Regions from separate parts of the Homo sapiens genome. Here region 1 is linked to region 2. The links come from fine-mapping of genetic effects on gene expression. Tissue or cell type: whole blood. Region 2 holds a variant in brackets; the other region holds the start of a gene. All regions are shown on one strand. Distances are between the middles of the regions.

Region 1 (10,299 bases), 50 kb after region 2:
ATGATAAGAGTACATCTTCTGTAAAAACAAAGTGAGACAAGTTTGGGAAGAAAATTCTTCCCAACAGAACACCTAAATCTCTCTCTACTCTCCTAAGTTTTCTCCACCCCTACTGCACAATCCCATACTTAAACAGCTTAACTGGTTTCCTCCAAATTGTACTCTCAACTTCCCCCCTTTATTTGAGACTCTGTCACCCAGACCGGAGTGCAGTACACGATCATGGTTCGTTCACTGCAGCCTGGACCTCCAGGGCTCAATCCACCCTCCTACCTCAGCCTCCCGAGTAACTGGGACTACCAGTACATGCCACCACGCCCAGCTAATTTTTTTGTATTTTTTGTAGAGACAGGGTTTCACCATGTTGCTCAGGCTGGTCTCAGACTCCTAAAGTGATCCACCTACCTCAGCCTCCAAAAGTGCTGGGATTACAGGTGTGAGCCACGATGCTGGCCTCAAGCCCCTTTTCTAAGCTCCCCTCTCCCAATTCATTATTCACCTCTCAACTGAAGCTTTTAAAAATGCACATCTGAAAAAAAAAAAGTGTACCTATCCCCCACTTAAAACCTTAGGACAAACACCAAAATTCCTAATTTGGATTACCAGGCCTTGCAAGATCTGGACCACGATTACTTGCACAGCCTTGTTTCATCTGCGCTTTTCCCCAGGCACTTTCTCTTCCAATACTACCAAGTCTCTCTGGGTTCCCACAATAGACCTTGCCTTCTCTGGCCCTAGTTCCTTCAACATGTTTCCTCTCTGAACTTCATTTTCCCCCTTAGGCTTTTCTTTTCCTAACTTTTACTTACCCTTCTAGTCTCTGCTTAAAGCTCACTTCTTCAGTGTGGCAGAGGCTGTTGCTTTGTATCAAAATCAATAGTTCACTTAGATTTATTTGGAATGACTACGGCAACAGAACAAAAGAAAAGTAAGTGCTTTGTGTTTAGTAAAAAGGTACTACATTTTAGTACCTGCACATAACAGTCTATAGGTCTATAAAGCTTAGAATTAAGAAAACTATACCTTGAGGAGTTTCCAGGATAAGAAAAAGTTAAAATTAACAAAGCAGAGATCAATATGAAACATAAACAATATGCCAGCAAAGGCTGAAGGAAAACGGGACTTAAGTAAGGCAACAGCAGTTTGGAGAATGGAAGATGGAGGAGGCTCTTTCAGAAGAATGAGATGACTTTTGCTATGCTAGTATGCCAAAGGATGTGGAAAAATAAAAAACCGTGTAGAGTAAGGAGATATATTTAACTGGAGCAGAAGACACTAGCAAAAAAGTACTGGAACTCTTACAGATAAAAGGGACCTTAAAGATTCTAAAACCCCCTAATTCCGAGATGAGAAAAAGGCGATCCAGGCCAGGCATGGTGGCTCACGCCTGTAATCTCAGCACTTTGGGAGGCCGAGGCAGGTGGATCACTTGAGGTCAGGAGTCTGAGACCAGCCTGGCCAACATGGCAAAACCCTATCTCTACTAAAAATACAAATATTAGCCAGGCATGGTGGTGCGTGCCTGTAGTGCCTGTAGTCCTAGCTACTTAGGAGGCAGAGGTATGAGAATCACTTGAACCCACCACTGCACTCCAGCCTGAACCCACCACGGCACTCCGACCTGGGCGACAGGGCGAGATCTTGTCTCAAATAAAAAAAAAAAAAAAAAAAAACAGATCCAAAAAGGCCAAACGAGTTTTACCCAGCGCTAATGAGTAGCAATGCTGGCAAAGGTCTTCTCATTCTTTTTCCTTAAGCACTCTGGGAAAGCACTGTACCAGGTACCCTTAAAGAATCTAAAAGAAATGTAAGTTTCCTTACCTTCAAAAAACTTAAAATGTTGCTGAAATGATATAACACATGAAAAAGAAAGAAAAATATGAAAACAGGATGTAAATTTTTCAAGTGCCAAATTATGCACTACAGGAATATATTAGGCATTTAGGAGCTGGGTTCCAACAACTAAAGGGAAGATCAGGAACAAAAACAAAAGGAACCAAAAGACAAACCAGTGATTGTTGAAGTGGTACTTAAAGGAAAATAATCTTGATGACTTGTGTTCAGAATGGCACAAAGGGAGAGGAAGGGAAGATAACGGGAGGAATAATAGTAAATTTTTTTTAAAAAGACCTAAAAAATACAGACTGCTGTTATACACTCATGCAGGTGGCAGATCAAGCAGCTCATGTTTGCAAAATTACTTCAAATTACAAGACCAGTTACAATATATAACTAACAAGCTGCACAAGTTCCAAGTGTAAGAACTTTACAAGGCCGGTATGACTCACTGATTTGTACCAACAAATCATTGATGGAGCTGTGCTTATAAAAACAAAAGCACAGAATGAAAGAAGTTTATTTTCCAAAGAATTGTGAACTTTGAGATTATCTCTTCTTTTTTTTTCTTTTAGAAGGAAGTTCTGGTTTGGTTTGAAGTCTCAAGTTACCAACGAACTTGCTCAAAAAACCACAAAACTACAGTGTCGAGAGATAAACTATTCATGAAGGTATCACCAGCAAAAGTTCTACTTGCCAACCAGAGCCAGTATATTTATAAGATCTCATTCACCATTTTATTCTAAGATACTTTACTGGCTTGGCTGCCTCCAGTTCCAACCGCAAGTACTTTACTAAAATATCTTTCAAGCCAGGAACAGTATCTTAAAGTCAATGCCACCCTTCATCATAACAGTATTATAACACAGAACCCTGAGATAATTACATGTAAAGATCCAAAATCACCAGCTGAATAATGAAAATTAGGTCAAATGATTTGTTAGATTTTAAAATGTTTTATAGAAAGCTTTAGGCTTCCATATGAAAAAAGCTAGTAATAGTTTGCATTCTCTATAATCTTACAAAAAAAAAAAAAAAACCCACAGACCAGAGATCAAAAATAGCTTTACACAAACAAAAGGAAAATTGTAGGTTTGCTGAGGGCATCAGCCACTTAATTTAACCCTATTTCATCAAGAGCGGGAAGCCACACTGCTGTTTTCACCAGTTACTAAGAAACAAGATAAAGGACAGATTGGGACAGAGAGTCTATAGCTGAAAGTATTATGTTGATGCAATTACTGAGAATTCCCAAAGTGTCACTAATAGACAAGAAAGAGCATCTAGGACTGCCTCTAAATGAGTCTACCTACAACAGAATCAGTGATTAAGTAAAGAAAAGACTTACTGGAGCTTGGGGGTTTTCCCCCCCTCTTCCCTACCCGCATCCTCCCATCCTGAACCCCCCTCCCCAAGTAGGAAAGAAAGCTCGCCCAGCATAAACACAGGCCATTGCTCACAGCTCGTCACCACAACAAACTGGAGGTTAGACCAACGCTCCTGGAGACGGAACTCCACGTCTTGGTTGCTAAGCACAAAAAGGGGACTCTTCCCCACAGACCTGTGAACAGTGTGGGCCTTACCAGAATTTTGGTTGTTTCTCCACCTTCCCCCTCCCTTTTGTTTTTTTAACGAAAGCTTTGAAAGTGGTGGCAGCAAAAGTTTCCCTTTGGGCCAGACCTCTAGATCTCCCTTGTACAGATATACATTAGGTGGGCTGGTCTCACGTAGTCTCCACCGTCATTACGAATTACAAGCCTAACGACTACAGAACATCAGCGGAGACGACAGAAAAGCTTCCACACCCACCCCACTGTCGTCCTCTCCAGGCACGGCTTCCTGGTCCCAAACAGCACAAATAACCCAAAACCATGGTGATAAGCGGAGCTGTGAAGTACACACGCACAAGCCACACACTGGGAACCTGCCACGACAGCCGGGGAAAAAACCGGCCGAGTGAGGAGACGCAAGGCGGTCCCCTGTCACTTAAGGACAACACGCCCAGGCGAGAAGTGGCAGGAGGCAGGGGGAGTTGCCCCGAAAACCAGCCCGGAGCCTCCCCACCTTCCTGGGAAGGCAATCCCCTCAGCGGCAGTGAGCGGCCGGGCCGCAAGACGCGGCGCCCGGTCCCAGGCAGGGGCCCTTTGAGGAAGGCGCCCCCGGCAGGCTGGGCGCTCCAGGAGAGCCGGCGGCCGGCCCGGCCCCGCCTCAGGGAGCTGAGGGGAAGTCGCTCCCCGCCGAGGACCCCTCCTGCCCGTCCCCACTCACCGCCGGTGTGTCTGGTTCTCAGCCGCGAGCTGGGGCTGCCGTGAGGAGGCGGCGGAGGAGACGAGATCTGGGGCCCCGCAGCCGGGTCATCATACCCCCCGCGCGAGCCGGCCCGGGCCCCGGCCCCCGCCCCCCGGAGCCGTCCCCGCGCCCGTCCCGCAGGGGGAGCCTCCTCAGCCTCCCTCCCGCTCCACCACCCAGCCCCTTCCCGCCGCCGCCGCCGCCGCCTCAGCCCCGCGCGCTCCCGCCTCGGCCTCCTGCTGCCGTCCGGGGCTACCGCCGGGCCCCTTGCTCCGCAGCCGCCGTTGTCGCCAGACCCGACGAACGGAATGCCGAGCGGCCGTCCCTCAACCCGGCCGGCCCCGCCTCGCCGGAACTATTCACCCGCCCCGCGCCATGACACCTACTGAGGCGGAAGTGCAGCTGAATGGACTCTCTAGGACGATCGCATAGTACTGATTGCAGTAGGAGTCGGTGGGCCTCGAGTAGGTGGGCCTCCGTAGGGAGCCAGCGTGGATCGAGTGCGGGGCCTGGACTTCCCGCCCCCTCCGCACTGCAGACTCTGCGGTGATTTAAAGGTGCCTGGCGGTGGTACGGGATCCAACTGTAAAATGTCATCCCAGCTAGTGTGACATCACCACAGTTTAGTGTGACACCCCCAGAGCTTGGGCAGTGTACGGGACGACAGTGCCTAGCAGAGGAGCTTCACTGCCGGTGAGGGATTACCTCAGGTTAGGCTTTAATGTTTCGTTGCCGTCTAGAGACGTTCTAGCAATGTGACATCTGTGTACCATATCTGGAAGTCTCCCTGTACGTCAAGAGCCCCTTAGGGGAGTCTCCCATTGCCGCCGTGGGAACCTGTGTTTACATTACGAGGAGAGAGAATAGCTGTACTCTGAACTCAAACGCTCAAAACATGCAGTGAGCGAATGCTAGCATAATTTTCTTGCCTCTACCAGAAGGAAGGCTGGGTATTTAGGAAACAGAACGCGTTGGGCACAACATTCTGAGAAAATGGACACAGAAAATTAGGTTATCCTAATAGAAAAGCAGTTGCATCTCCCAAAGTCAAGAGATTCTGTAGGACTTCCGATGTATCTCCTGCTGTGTAAAATATTCAGGTTCCTGAAGTGGGGGACATTTTTAGGGCAACTGTAATTTCTTCATTTTTTCCATCCCACAAGTGCTGGAGGCAGCAGTGATCTGAGCTCTAGAAAGTGACTGTCCGTCACCATCGGTATTTGCATATACTCTGTGAGGAGAAGGGCAGTTGTGGCTAAGACAAAATTCTACTATCAAGTTTTGTTTCTCAAATCTCACTCATTAACATCTTTGATTTCCTTGGATCCCCATAACACACACAGAAAACTATGATTTGTGTAAAATGCGCTGAAGTACCTTTTAAGGGAAGTCATTTGGCTTTCTCTCTGGCTTAACAACACGGGGAGCAGTTCCATTTTATCTGGAACAGGGAAGTTTATTTCCCTAGAGAACTAGGGTTACCAAAAATGTTCGATCCCACAAGGCAGTTTTGTTTGCATATTTTCACAGAAACTTCCTTCTACTACTTAAAGTCCTCACATTGGGCTGACCTGGGAAACATGAAGATAAAAAGAGTGGGTAAACATGCCTGCTTGATGAGCCAGAAAAAAAGGCAGAAACCTGTGGTCTGGGTAGAACAGATCCTGCTCAGAATGTAAGCTTCAAACATGTTTATCATGCCTTGGTTCAACCTAACTCTCTGACATGTTCCTAAACTCCTGCTCTCTCAAGTTATGTCCCTTTCCTCTTTTCAAATATCTCTCAGAATTCACCCTTTCGGGAACCTTTGCTGATTGACTCCTATTTTATTTGAATTCTGCATCATCATCTGATTACTTAAATTAACCTGTACCTTCTTTATTTATACTTGTTAACTTCTATTTTCATTGCTCTTAGGTCCTCAGTCTTTCTCACTATACGGAGAGCTTCTTAAAGTCTGTATTTTCTCCTCTTTAGTATCATTCACTCATTCATCCAGCAAACTGCTTGTGTGCCTGCTCTGTGCTATACACTCTTCTAGACACTGGGTCAGGTATGAATGAGACAGGTGAATAAAGCATGGTCTTTTCCCTCAGGGACCTTACAGTCTAATGAGGAAAAAACGTGTGCAGACATATATAAGATAAGTGAGAGAGTCGGAGAAGAACATCAGAAGTGATATTTGAGCATAGTAAGGTCAAAGAAGTTTCAAAGTTTAGTCATTTGTCCATTCAGTAACTATTTATAGAGCATCTTCTGTGTGCTAGGCACTATATAAGAAATTAAGGGGCTGGGTGTGGTGGCTCATGCCTGTAATCCCAGCACTTCGGGAGGCTGAGGCAGGTGAATCACCTGAGGTCAGGAGTTCGAGACCAGCCTGGCCAACATGGTGAAACCCCGTCTCTACTAAAAATACAAACATTAGCCAAGTGTAGTGGCGCATGCCTGTAATCCCAGCTACCCTGGAGGCTTAAGCAGAAGAACCGCTGGAACCCAGGAGAAGAAGGCTACCATGAGCCGAGATTGCACCATTGCACTCCAGCCTGGGCGACAGTGAGACTCTGTCTCAAAAAAAAAAAAAAGAAAGAAAGAAAGAAATAAAAAAAAAAGAAATTAAGGATACACAGAAGAAAAGGCATGGTCTGTGCCCTGAAGGAGCTTACAGTTAAGCAGAGAAGTTGCACGATTTGGAAGTAGTAAGGTAAATTGAGTCAGATTTTGAAAGGCAATGTAGAGCTGTTAGAAGTTTATTCGCACAGGTAGCCAGGCACAGTGGCTCATGCCTGTAATCCCAGCACTTTGGGAAGCCAAGGTGGCAGATCACTGGAGGTCAGGAGTTCAAGACCAGCCTGGCCAACACAGTGAAACCCCATCTCTACTACAAATACAAAAATTAGCCAGATATGGTGGCATATGCTTGTAATCCCAGCTACTCGGGAGGCTGAGGCAGGAGAATCGCTTGAATCCGGGAGGCAGAGGTTGCAGTGAGCCGAGATCGTGCCACTGCAGTCTAGGCTGGGCAAACAGAGCCAGACTCTGTCTCAAAAAAGAAGTTTATTCAGACAGGTAATGTGAGAGAGAACTAGTGATGGTGAAGGAAGAGGGCTAGCTGGAGTGGGTAAAGACTGGAGAAAGGGATCCTAATCAGAAAACTATGATGAGGGTTTGATTACACAGGAAAGAAGGCGAGAAGGGGCAGATATGTGAAATACATCCTCCTAAACCAAGTCAGAGCAACTGGAGAGGGAGGTGGAGCAGTTAGCAATCGGAAGCATTCAAGTTTCATTCAGGGTATGACATCCTTCTAGGGCCTACAGCCTAGATTCAGTGTTGCAGGCAAGAAGTCATTTGCCCAAGAGCGGCAGTGCTTAAGGCCAAATAGGAGAAGCTGATGAGAAGGCTGTGTCTTGAGAGAAGCTGAACCAAAAAGCTAGGCAAACTATTCAAACAAATAGTGAATCCTAGGGGCTAGGAAAAAAAAGAGAATTTAAATAGAAGCCAACAGGTTGTGAAACTGGGAAAACCAGATTAGAGTGAAGGTCTGCAGTAAACGATAAAAAGCAGAAAAGTCCCTTGAGCCAACAGGAGGAGAACCTCAATGATTTTTTAAAAATCCAGACCCCAGAATACTTTTTATTTGGAAATAATGTTAAACATACAGATATGTTGCAAGAGTGACAAAAAGAGGACCCAGATTATTAACATCTTGCCCCTTTTGCTTTATCATTTGCAGTTATAGATAGATAGAGTTATATTACACACATACATGCCTTTTTTTTTTTTTTTTTTTTTTTTTTTTTTAGACAGAGTCTCACTCTGTCACCTAGGCTGGAGTGCAGTGGCATGATCTCGGCTCACTGCAACCTCCACCTCCTGGGTTTAAGCGATTCTCCTGTCTCAGCCTCCCGAGTAGCTGGGATTACAGGTGCCCGCTGTCACACCTGACTAATTTTTTTGTATTTTAGTAGAGACGGGGTTTCACCGTGTTACCCAGGCTGGTCTTGAACTCCTGAACTCAGGCAATCCACCCACCTCAGCCTCCCAAAGTGCTAAGATTATAGGTGTGAGCCACCGTGCCCAGCCCACGTACATATTTTTTTTTCCAAGCAGTTAAAAGTAAATCGCATGCATCATCCTCCTTTACCACATAATACTTGAATATCCTAATAAGTACATTCTCTTATGTAAACAAAATACATACAATTAACAACTCCAGGAAATTTAACATTGCTGTAATACTTTACCATCCATGTTCCAAATGTTGTCAGTTGATCAAATAACATCATTCTTAGCATTTTTTTTATTTTCCAGCACAAGATCCAGTTTAGGATCATATATTACATTTAATTGTCATGTCTCTTTAGTGTTCTTTAATCTGGCACAGTTCCTCAGCTTTTCTTTGTCTTTAATATTTTTGAAGAATACAGGACTTTTTCTGGTAAGGGGTAATAAAATGTTCTTCATGGCTGGGCGTGGTGGCTCACGCCTGTAATCCCAGCACTTTGGGAGGCCAAGGTGGGTAGATTGCAAGGTCAGGAGCTCAAGACCAGCCTGGCCAAGATGGTGAAACCCCATCTCTACTAAAAATACAAAAATTAGCCAGGCGCGGTGGCAGGTGCCTGTAATCCCAGCTACTTGGGAGGCTGAGGCAGAGAATTGCTTGAACCCGGGAGGCGGAGGTTTCAGTGAGCCAAGATCATGCCACTGCACTCCAGCCTGGGCAACAGAGCAAGACTCTGTCCCCCCGACCAAAAAAAAAAGATCTGAGCATTAGGCCCACAGTGATTTATTACTGAATGCTTGTATGTGAATATCAGCCCTTCAGCCTCCCTGCTCATCCCTTTCCTCAGGTTGCAAGCCTTAGGTATTACCAAGATTTTTCTCTTAAGACTCCTTTTGAGTATCCTTAGCAGAGAAAGCTTGCATAGGGAAATTTGGCAGACACTGTCCGTTGCCTATTCAAATGAATAGTTAGGTTTAGCTAACTTGTGTAGCAAACAATCCCCATACCTCAGGGGCTTATGGAAAGGTCACTGCTAGCTGGTCCATGATGGCATGTGCTTATAGTCCCAGCTTCTCAGGAGGCTGAGGCAGGAGGATTGCTTGAGCCCAGGAGTTCAAATCCAGCCTGGGCAACATATTGAGACCCCCATCTCTAAGGTAGATAGATTAGATACATGGATGGATGGATGGATGGATAGATAGATAGATAGATAGATAGATAGATAGATAGATAGATAGATATTACTGATATTGGTGAGAGCCACTACTCCCATCTCTGAGAGAGGGAGAGAGAGAGAGAGAGAGAGAGAGAGAGATAGTATTTGATCTTCGAGAGAGCGGTTTTAGTGGCATAGTTTGGGCAGAAGCTGTGTGGTTCCTATATAGGATTACTCATAGTATGAGTGGTGACTGACAATCTGGGAAGAATGGCCTGGTCCAGCTGAATGGTAGAATCTATTCTGGTCAATACCCATATTCAGCTCTCAATATCCAAGGAATCTGCTTGGGTCCACATCAGCTACATCTGAGAAGTTATGAAATGAATCATTTTGACTACATTCTCTATCACTTCTCTTCTCACAGGTATAAACCAGGAAAAGTTGTTCTGGCCCCTCATCTGGTTTCATGAAGGACAATATCTAGCATGAGAGTGACAGGGGTTAGAATAATGGACATTTTGGGGACTGGGTCCTAGCAGAAATGATGGAATAATGGAACAGGAGTTTGGATGAATGGGCATATTATGGGATTAAAGAAGATTTGAATACAAGCTTTCCTAATAAATGAAAGGGGAGGTGAAACTAGAGCATGCTGATGGCTGCACAGCATTGTGAATGCACTAAATGCACTAACTGTCCACTTTAAAATGTTTAGTAATATGTCGATTTTACCTAAATAAAAAAAAGGAAGCAACATAGTGAGTCATCGTCTCTATAACAATTTTATTCAGATGTCTTGGAGGATAAACCTTTCTTTTTTTAATTAGCCAGGCGTGGTGGCACACACCTGTAGTCCCAGCTATTCAGGAGGGTAAGGTGGGAGGATTGCTTGACCACTAGAAGTTGAGGCTGCAGTGAGCTATGATCTTGTCACTACACTCCAGCCTGGGCAACAAAGCAAGACCCTGTCTCAAAAAAAAAAAAAAAGTGGGGTGGCAGGGAGGGAGGTTTT
Region 2 (11,236 bases):
CTGGTTACCTGATTTTCATGGAAGTAATAAGGCGTTAAGAATGTACTTCAAATACATATTCCTTGACGTCACTTATACACACGGAGTCTCAGGTTATGCTCTCATCAAGGGCATCAGAGCCGCTCCTGGTGTTTGGTGCTCTAACAAGGTAACTCCAGAGACACGGCCTGACCCTACAGCCTCCTATCACACACTCATACAGCCACACAAGCTAGCAGACAAGCTCCCCTGCCACATGCAGGCACATATACACATACACGTACACATACGCAGTCACACTAGGGAGCAGACAAGCACCTCTGCCACACACAGGCACCTCCCACCCCCAACACACACACACACACACACACACACAGTCACGCTAGGGAGCAGACAAGCTCCCCTTCCACATGGGGCACCCACAGTCCCCACACTGCTCTGCCAGCCGTGTGGCCCAGACCCCATTCTCCAGGCCTGTGCTCAGAATGCCCTTCCCCCTCAACCCCTCCCTGTGCACCACGTGTGCCGCAGCCAGCTGTTCTGTGGGCAGACCCTTCCGTGGGCTGACAGGTGGTGATTACTGTTGCCAGCCCCACATTAGGAGAGAATTCAATGGGAGAGAGCCCCTGCCCGCCCCGGTCTCCCTATAATAGCGCCTTTCTGAGGTGCTTCACTGTCTTTCTTTCCCCATCCTCATCAACCTACGTCTGGAGCAGCTCTGCCTGAGGAGAAAAGAAAAGAAGATAAAGGGAGGCTCACAGGGCCCTGACTGAGCCACCCCACCTGGGGCGGGAAGGAGGGCTGTGCTTTGGGGAGAAGGCTGTGCCCCCTTCCCGCACTTGGCTAGAGCAAATAACCAAGAGGACCCCCAGGCATGCCTGAGGTGGACTCCTCATGAAAGCAGTGGATCCTGCCCATCAGCCAGCCTTGCCCCTGCGAGCTGAGCATGCAGCAGTGAGGGTGAGGCTGGGGTGGGGGCCTGGTGCAGAAATCAGCAGATTCCTGGAGACTGGAGTCCAAAGCCTGGAGCCTTCCTCCTCCTCTCCCTTCTCCCTTCCCTCTTCCCCACATTACGCTCTGCAATCCAACGCCAGAGGCCAGGGTATGGGCCAGAGAGGGTTAAGTTTCCAGAAGTCCTGACGGGCTTCAGCCAGGTTCAGGGCTGGAGTGGGTAGGTGAGGGTGATGAGAGTGGAGAAAAGGAAAGCAAGAATAGGCTGCAGACCGTGTAAGGCCAACATCTGGGACACGGTCACTGCCCCTCCTCCCTGCACAAACCGCAGACGCCGTGGCAGCAGGAAAATCAGAGCGGTCCAGACCAAGAATGATTGTGCAACCTGGCCCTGCAGGAGCACAACGCTGGAGGTGGGAGTGGAGGTCTGGGGTGCGGGGCAGAGTCCACTTTAGAGGGGAGACTTCAGTTCTTACTAAAAACACAGGCATTCAGGGCTCTGGTTTCCACACTAGAATGCAATGCAACTAACATGCATTTTGTAGTTCAAAATCCTCTGAGAATCGGAACTGGAATCTCTGCCCTGGGCCCCAGTGTCTCACAGCCAGAGGCACGGTGCCACTGAGGTTCTAGGATGGCTGCTGTGGATTGGCTGCTGTGGATGGCGGTGGGTGTGGAAGGAGGCCTTTCGTCCAGCCTCCTAAAGTGGCGGGATTCTGCCACCTCCCCCAGGCGCCTCACAGTAAACTCTTCCTCAGCAAAGGGAGCCCCGCCCAAGTCTTTAATATGGCTCAAGGAGTGGGGATGGGTTGGGAGGGAGAAACTGGATGGTCAGGGGGAAGTTTGATCTGAGGGCTACCCCAAACAAACACAGGAGAGGAGCAGTGGATTTTCCTTTTAATGCAAAATGTTGCAATACAAAACAATGTGGAGAAAGTCCTGTTCCTCAGGACACTGAAGGGAGGAGTGAGGAAGAGAGGACAGAGCTGGACGTCTCCTCCTATTTCTCCCTCCCCAAGTCACTCTGAGGGGAAGAACACTGCTGCCTGCTCCCTGGGCCTGCCCGCATACAAGGTTAGAGCCCTGGGTCTGGGGCATCCTTAGCCTGAAATTTGTTGACATGGGGCAGGAGAGCAGGAGGGAACATTGAGGGTTTTGACTCTTCGGGCTCTAAAAGGATTACTCAGGATCTGGAGTTCCGTATGAAACAAAGGAGCTGAAAGAATTTGATTGCCATTGGCTAAAAATATAGAGGATTTGAGCCACAACTGGCCCACATTTGAAGAATGAGGAACAAGAAATTTAGTGGGGATATAATATAAATGTATGGGAGTGAGAAAGATGCAAAAAACAAGGCTAGCTCCTCAAACCTCCTCCTCTTTCTTCCTCATCTCCAGCTTATAGACAATCTGGTAGCCATCATCCCAGGCATAGAGCTGGCGTTCTCGGGGGTTATAGCGGAGGCTGGCATGGGCACCATATCTGCGGGGAAAATAAGGGAGTGCTGCCCGTTCAGGGGTCAGGGTGCCGCTGGCATCAAAGGAGCACTGGATGCGGGCCCGACTGGCAGGACGGGTGTTATAGACGACATAGAGGGTCCCACAGATGACAAAGGCAGCCTCAGCATTCTCTCTGGGACATGGTGTGTCCCACTGCTGCTCTGTGTCCAGTGTCTGTGGATCTAACTTGGCCAGACACAAGTGCCTGTCATCCTCCCGGGTGGCATAGACAGCCCAAAGACCTTCCTCATCAGCTGCCAGGTCGATGTAGGTGTCTGCTGTCAAGCCGTAGGGGGGGATCAGCCCCTCTGCTGGGAATACTGAGCTGTCCACCACTGTTCGGTTTGCCAGGTGGAATTTGATTAGCTGCAAAGTGTTCTCCATCTCACCACCTCCACCAGGTCTTCCAGGAGGCCTCCGAGCAAAATAAAGAAAGCCACCATATACCAGCTGCCCTGTGCCTACCCAGGGGAAGGGCACCCGGACTCGGGAAGCTTTCCGGGCAGCCATGGCAAGGGTGAAGTCACGCAGCCTTGGGAAGACAAAGGCTGTGTCATTCTGTGTCCCATCTAACACGTAGATCTTCTCTGTTTGCCCCAGTGGATCCTTGGTCCATAGACCAGCTGGGCCACCAAATCGCTTCAGAATCTTCATTGATCTCACTTGAGAGATTGTGTAGCCACAGTCTGATGAGAAAAGCACAGGAAAAGGAAATAGAGGCAAGAATTAGATGCCTCCAGCAGGAACTCCCCCAGGGTGGGTGATCTGGAGAATAGTGAGCATTTGCCCAGTGGTTGCCTCCAATCTTAGGGAGAATTGAGAAAGAGCGGGTACCACAGCGGCCTGGATCCCCAGAACCTCTCCTTAATAGACCTGGCATTACAGAGGTTTCCCTAAAACAGATTCCAGAAGACAGAGCCACAATGGACTGGGACAAAGCGAAAAAAAGAGTAAGAAGCAAGGAAGGAAGAATATCGGTTCTGAGAAGAGTTAGGGGCCTGCTTTCAGATTATTTACCTGTCACCATATCGTACTTCTCATTCCTTCTTCCCTTGCCTTTGGTCCCAGGGCCTCCAGTCACCTTCTCATCAAACTCTACACAGGGCAGAGCTGGGTTCTGGGTCTCCAGATAGTCTACCTCCCGCTCCAGACGATCCACTCTCCCGGAGATGGTGTCGGCCTCAGTTCTGAGTGCCTCCCGCTCCTTCTCTGCCACCTCCAGCAGTGGCAGCATCTTGTTCTTGAAGTCCCGCAGCTCAGCAGCATGCCGACTACTCTGGTCCTGGCACTGGGCCAGCCGTTCCTGAAGGGATGGGGGATCAGGAGGGAGGCTGCAGGGTTACAACTCCCAGGCAGGGAGAGGCCCAACTCGGGAGTCAGGAATGGGAAAAAAAGAGCAAACTCAGCCAGGCTTCAATATCCCCTTCCACTCCTGCAGAAAAGGAAACCAGATGTGCAGAGGTGCTAAATGTGCAAAGAGCCTAGCTGAGATTCACCTAGGCCCCTACCCCGACTCCATGTCCTCCAGCCTGTGTTCTCTGTGAGCAGTGCCACTGAGCCATCTGAGCCTCTAGGCAGGTCTAAGCGCATGAAGGTGTGAAGAGGTCTCTGCTCCCTTAGCAATTATCCTCTCGGACACTAAAATGCTACGGATCTCAACCTGTTAAAAAGACAGGAAGTTATAGATTCCCCGGGAACCTCCAACTTCAACAGAATCATCACCTTCTCTGGAGATGCAGCCCCACAATTTTGGCTCTCGTTTCCACTCTGCCCCCTTATTCTATCTAATCCCAGAGGTAAAACGCAAAAGTCGATTTGCTTTGGAATTGTTCTATGTGGGGTAAGAGGAGGGCTTGTCATTCCGAAGGTCCTCTTATTAAGAGAGAATTTTCTGTAGACTCTAACAGAGCCCTTTCTTGTTATCCCCAGATCCCTAACAAACTGGTTGAACCAATAGCCCTGGAATCCTTCTAGGCGGGGCTAGAAGAGAAAGGGGTCCCTCACCTCTAAAGCAGCTAGTCGGCGTTCCATGTACTCCACAAGGTGGTGCTGCTGTCCTTGGAGGGGTCCCGACCATGACAAAAGGAACAAGATGAGGAGAGGGGTGCTGGGCCCCATGGCAGCCTGGAGAGTGGTGCCAGAGTAGAAGGAACGTACAGTCAGCCTCTTCCCCTCAAGCCCGAGGGTTAGCTTTGGAGGCGGGGTGGGGGCGGTGCCTTCTCTCCTGATCTCTGGGTCTCTCTCACTACTCTGGAATGCTTTCAGTTCTCTTTACAACCCCCACCCCCTCCTTTCCGCCAGGATTGATCAAACACAGATGGCCCCATTGCACAGCAGCCAGAAGCCTTAACCACCTCCCGCCTAGGCTGTAGGGTCCTCTGGAGGGGAAAGAGATGGAAACCCGAAAGCAGAGGCCTTCTAGGCAGTCAAGCAGGGAAGCTAGCTGCAGAAAGCAGAGACCCCAGAGAAAACTCAGCAAACGCCATTCCTGTTTTAGGAAAGTTTCACCAGTGCTGACTTAAGAAACTGACATTTTTCATTAATCTTTCCCTTTCCCTGCAATAGAGTGGGTTTTCAGCCTTGTTCAGTAGAAGCTGGGAGCTGGGGAGGTGAGGCTTGAAGGGAGGAAGCAGGAAAACAATGGCCCAAGTGGTCAAGCCCAACTTATTCTAAAGCTCATTGGCGCCACCTTGTGCTAAGCAGCTGGTGTCATCTCTCATGATAATACAGAAACTAAGGCTTAGACTTCACCCCATGAGGAAAATTTTCCACAAAAGCCAAATATATTGAATTTACAGGGGTTTTCACCACTGAAATGCATATTTCCCCCAAGACTATCCAATTACTACTTTGGGGGCTATGCAAATATCTGATTTAGCCCAAGGAAGAAAATATAACTGAGATTAAAAAAAAAAAAAAAACAGGTCACTGAGAAGTTAGTAAATTAACTCGATCGTCTGGAAGTTAAGGCTGACAGCAGCGCTGTTTTACATGGCTTTCCTTTGCTTGAAAGAGGCCAGATATAGTCTCTCACCAAAACTGAGGAGTGTTCAGTGAGTTCACACTAATTTACTATACATTCATGTATTGCGGGGGGGCGGAATCTGATATATATATATATGTTGTTGCAGTCTAGATCAATGTATTCTGACTTCCTTACCACTGGGAGAAAAGACTATTGGTTATTTCTCTTGGTTGTGGTCCAAAAGGGTATTTCTGAGTGTTTCTCATTTCTATATCCCAACTAAGGCTGCAGGAGCCCAAAATGAATTAATGGCCACCATAAGGTAGACTTGGGCCATAAGGTAGACACACGGGCCGAAAAAAAAAATCAAATAGAGCATTTACTCAGAGACCTGCAGTCATTAATCGAAACAAACCCCTATTTCTTTATCGGGAGAAATTCTATTCACTTTAGAATCAACAGAATCTGATGAGAGGTTCCTTCTGTAAAAAGGACCATGACTCTAACAGTACAGTTTGAAAGGAGGGGAAAAATAGCAGCTTCCTGTGGTTACTCATCTTTTCATTCTGCTACTGCTATCTGGCAAAACATATGAGGAAACAAAGCTTAATTAGCCGGTCTCAGAAGTCTTCTACCTCTTTCAAAGGGTCAGATCCAGATGATGTGAAGTAAGGACCCTGGACACTGCATTCTTGGGAAGTATTCCCTGCCAAACCCTATTCATTTCCAGTATGGAGATTTGTGTGAAGAATGAAATTGTCTCTAGTACTCTACTGATGTTCAAATACAATATGCTTAGCCACTTTCAAAGATGTCATTTATTGATCCCCTTTATATCCTATAACAGAAGTCAAAAACAGCCACATAAGTCAGAAAATTTACCCATTTTATTGATGCATTGCAATTGCTCTACATTTTACCATATTATGTAGAAAATACTGAAAATACAAGCTACTTTGTAAAACCAAAGACAAACATTGAATCCAAAGATAAACTATGTTTTACACAATGGACCCTTTTCCCATAGTTAGTATTAAATTTTAAATATCTATTTCTTTTGTTAAAATGATTATTTTACATACTCCCTAAGTACATCTGCATTACAAACATAGCTCAGTAATTCTCAGAAACTATCTGTTTCTAGAGGCTTGTTGTAAAAGAAAGCGCACAACCAAAAAAAGGGAGAAAGCAAAAAAAGTTTAAATCGCACACAATAACTAGCATATCAAATACATTTAATAAAGTAGGAATTCCATTGCAATATCAAGGATTCAAAGCAGAAATACTAACATTACATATAATGTACATATAATGTACTGCTACATGTAGTGAGATTATTTTTCAAGCTGAATTGAAACCACACATTATATAAAGTTTAGCAACAAACAACCATGTAGACATGCTGCACCATCTATCAGTTAAAAAAAAAAAAAATCAAAATAGGAAGCAGGCTCGGGCCACTCCTGTCACTGAGAGGCAATTTCATTTCCTATCCTAAAACAAACCATCTCAACTAGTGAATTTTTGCATAATAATGCTGAACAAAACACACATTACTGTGCTTGCCTGGCTAAGGGCAGTCAAGCTTAGCCCCTCTAGTGGAGGACAATGGATGAGCAATCACAAAAGCAGGCTCAGAATGGCCAGAACTGTTTGAAATGGAGTTCTTATTCCTGGGGTTGGTATTTCAGCTGAGCACTGAAAATAATATCACCTCCTGGGAGCTATTAAAAACTCTGGAGTGACCAAGTGTCCCTATGAGCCCAGAGTGGCTACACTGAACCCTTCTCCGCTTCTTCTCTCACCCGGAAAGGAAGAAGTTGGAAATGCCAAGTTCTGAGAGAGGACTTAAAGCCTTAAGCTGGTTTGAGGTCAGGTCACTGTGACCCAGGCCAGCTGCTCACTAAATTCACCAGGCTTCCTCCCTTCCTGTCAGGGCC[A/C]ACAGGGCTAACCCCAGGGACAGAATCTAAAGCCACAGTGAGCACATACATACACATTCAGCAGACACAGGTGGATTTTTATGCTGGAAAATCGGAAATGCCAGTTTGCAGACTAAGACTGAAAAATCTCTAGTTTTTAAAGCCACACACTGCTAGGCAAGTGACTAAGGTAACAATACAAGCTCTTGGTATTATCCTTTTCTGTGGAGTTTAGACTCCTATCTTAAGTGGTATCTGCTTATTGGACTGGGGTGCAGGAATGGGATTTGGTTTTCTTTCCTGCATCTCATTTCTTACAAAAACAACAAATCTTGTCCCTTACAGAAAAAAGACAAGGAACAAAAAATTTGTCCTTTAGAAACTAGACCTGTGTTCCAACAAGAAAATCAGAATGTGCTTGGCAAAAAGGAGACACAAAGATCACACATGTTGACCAGAAAACTGTATGACACTAGTGACAGAAATTATACAAACTGCTTGGCTATCTTGACCAATATAGTGCTGAAAACACAACTCAATATAATGATTTTAAAAAATAAAGAAAACACAACATGTTCCTGGTAGGCTGTACGGACTACCTGCCCCATCTTGGAAGCCCTTACTCCTTACAATGAAGAAACTCCAAATACTTTGACAGCTCCTCGGTGTTCAACCTGGTACAGAGCTGGCTGACCAGGCTCCATGAAATCTCCCATCTCCATCCTGCACCTCCTTGACACCATCTCTATCTACACAGAACCAGTCCTAAAATTATATCTCAAATATATCATTTTCAATTCAGATGGAACACACCTGTATTTTAGGATTAATCTTCTTTCCCCAAATCCTTTATGGGCAGGAATGTCCCCATCCCCAGTACCTTCTACTTGACCCAGATCCATGCAGGAGCTGAGAGTACAAGGACAATTTCACAGCTTGAAGGGCCCCAAGACTATACAAGCTGTTAAAAAAGAAACCTCAAAAGCCTCAATGACTCAACAGGCTTTGGTTCCTTCTCTATATTCTTCACCAGCTAAGAAACCTTTCTGTGAGTTCCTTGTCACCAGCGGCACCACAAAACTTCTCCTCATAGTATGGGGACATGGTAAGCAATACAACAGGCTCTTTGGTATAAACACATCTGTTAACATGTTTTTTTCAACAAGCAAATATTTTACTAGGAATGTCAACTATGTGCAGGAAGGACTGCCACATGGGAAAAGGAAAAAAAAATTCATTCTAAAAGTGATTGCACATACTTTAAAAGAATGCATATTTAATATTGGCTTGACTCCTCTCACCTGCTTCCTGAATTCTCACAGAAGCAAGGTAGCAACGCACAGTGAGAGAGCCACATGGGGAAAATGCTTCTGTGAGAACTCAGCCGAGAATCCAAAATGGAAAGGGGTAGAGGTGGTGGTAAAGGAGAAAAGCTGCTGTTTTTATTTTTCAATGTTGGCAGGGAAACTGAGAACAATGCATTACACAATACAGCTACTAATCCTGTTCTGATAAATCCCGGTGAACAACTTAGGGTCCACGGGGGCTTGCTGGTCCATCCTAAGGCAAGCTCACTGTAAACTCTATTAACCACTACATTATCATATAAGGCACTACAATAAGGGAAGGAGGAAGAAAGGGAAGGAAGAGACACACACTGAAAAACTCCTCACCAGACACACCTGTGCAAAACAATTCCAAGGGTCTCCTCTCCTTGCAGGCAATGCCCCTGCTCATTCAGCACTACAGTAATATGCTCTAATATAATTGCAATTAGTTCACATACATTCCAACAAGTATCAGTTCATTTTGGTTTAAATACAATGGAGACATCAATCCATCTCCGGGATAACACTGGAGGATCACATACACACTAAGTACACAATTCAAGTGTAATCACTACACATTTGATTACAAATAACATTTTGGGTTAGCAGGAAAAATTGCTTGTTATATTTTTCTAATCAATATGTACATATTTAATTATGTAAAATATTAAAACACCACCATTACAAAACTTCTAAAATATTTTTAAATTCAGTAATAAATTTTTAAAATATTTTTTGCAATTCCTACATGCACTTATTATATAAGTCTTAATAAGAGAGCATTCAATTTGCTGCTGGCATACAAAGGAAGCTACTTTGAAGTATAAAAGCTATACACAAGAAATGTTCTTATCTGGTTTCAGGTTTTTTTAGCTTTCTCCCCAAACAAATCACATAAAACAGAAGGGAGAGATGAGCAAAACAGAGGTGTATTACTGAAAATTCATACTAATCTTTAGGCAAAGCTCATCAATGCCAGTATCTCATAATAGACAGAGATTTTGCATATAATAAAACCACCACCACCATGTAATAATAACCACCTTAATGGCTTTTTCGATAAAAAAATTTAAGCTGAATCAGAGAGAGAAAGACTTTTAAAAAATAATTTAAAAAAGAATTCATGGTGCTTCATTTAAAAAGAATACTTGGTGTTTTCACGCAGATATGGATTCTCTCACATTAAGTTACCAGCAAATGGTGAGCTGCCTTTTAAACACTACTTTATAACAAACACAGGAGCAATTGAGAGAATCTCAATAGTAACACAGAGTAATACGTAACCAGTTTTGCAAAAATAACAATTGCCCATTAAGTATAATATGACATTAAAACAAAACTGAAACTCTGTAAGTTTAAATGTCCAATAAACAAAAGGGAGATTGTGTAAGCCGCTTTTAAAATAAAATAGGCAAGTCTGAGTTTATAAACAAACAAAAAGTAATTTTTCTTTTTTTGTCATCAGATTTCAACTCCTTCTATCAGCATTTTTCCTGACCAGCAATCACAATAACACAAAATGAAATAAAGAGGGGCTTCACTTGTTTTTAAAAGCATTTATAGAAATCAAGTCAGAGAGACAAAATATTTTTCAGAGGGTAACTTCAGAACAATCTCTCTTCCTTGGTAACTGCAGAAGATGGGCATCTGAACTCTTCCAAGTACCAAAATTACTGTCACAAAAATAATGAATTTAAAAATAGGGCAAACTTTGGGAAGACTACAACAATGCAGTCAACACTGAGACAGGTTCCCCCAGAGAAAAACCTTCTGCTTCAGTGGGCCCCTGCAGAACAAGTTGCTGGCTAAGAAATTTCAAGAGGGTAAAGGAGGATCTCTCCATAGCCCAATATTAAGAACGCAGGGCCAGGAGAAGGTAGCCATGATTCCTCCTCCCTCATGCTCACCAACTATAAGTAGGAATACTGGCTGATCTTGGTAGGACTCAGCGGGTATCCAGTGTAAATTGTTGAGCCTCGGGAAGACCCAATGTAGGATTGGGTGGCAAACTGGTGTTGGTACTGAGCAGGGGCCACGCTGGCAGAAGTGAGGAGGCTGGGCCCAACACTGACAGGGACCTGGTGCACCAAAGTGCTAGGGTGAGTGGTATAGGCTGCAGCATGCCTTGAGGAACCCTGTGGGGAGAAAAGATGAGCAATGGAGCTGGTTGAGCCCAGTGCAGCAGCAGAAGTCGGGGCAGCATACGTATACAGATGAGCCTGGCTTGGCAGGTGAGCAGGGGCCGGGGCAAGGTGTGGGTGCCCTGTCGAGTGTAGCGGGCTGCCATGCTGGAAGGTGTAGGGGGCTTGGGAGAGAGGGGCCACAAACGCCTGCTGCCTGCGGGGGGCTGGGTTGCTGCTTCTCTCCTGTGAGGTTGGAGCCGCCGATGACTGCTGGTTCTGGAAGAAAGAAGGAAGAAGTGAGGAATCCTGAGGTCACTCCAGCTCAGGGCACCAAAGGCCAAGTTAAGAGCTCAGGTTCTGACTTGTACTGTTTTCGAATGGGTATAGCACATAATCTCCCACACTGGCATTGAATGCTGTCAGAAATCAGCCACCCCTCCTTCTGCCTCTTAGCAAGATAGATCCTAATCTG

What was found. PIP is the estimated chance that this variant, and not a neighbour inherited with it, causes the effect.
Region 1: it holds the start of HIPK1, and the variant in region 2 is fine-mapped to the expression of HIPK1 in whole blood (INTERVAL, PIP above 0.99).

What each region holds. Positions count from the first base shown.
Region 1 is chr1:113,923,745-113,934,043 of GRCh38, reverse strand. It overlaps HIPK1 (homeodomain interacting protein kinase 1), which reads right to left and starts at 4,720. Exons shown (of 16, transcript NM_198268.3): 1 at 4,512-4,720. HIPK1-AS1 (HIPK1 antisense RNA 1) reads left to right here and starts at 4,519. Exons shown (of 3, transcript NR_110726.1): 1 at 4,519-4,682; 2 at 5,656-5,800; 3 at 9,712-10,043. RefSeq lists silencers at 3,990-4,299, 4,320-4,369 and an enhancer at 4,490-4,809.
Region 2 is chr1:113,972,828-113,984,063 of GRCh38, reverse strand. HIPK1 (homeodomain interacting protein kinase 1) reads right to left here. Exons shown (of 16, transcript NM_198268.3): 16 at 6,195-11,040. The coding sequence ends at 10,552. It overlaps OLFML3 (olfactomedin like 3), which reads right to left and starts at 4,590. Exons shown (of 3, transcript NM_020190.5): 1 at 4,434-4,590; 2 at 3,447-3,732; 3 at 1,811-3,115. The coding sequence starts at 4,547. The coding sequence ends at 2,295. RefSeq lists enhancers at 1-757, 2,013-2,845, 4,513-5,346, 6,652-7,229. The variant A/C (reference allele first, on the strand shown) is at 7,335.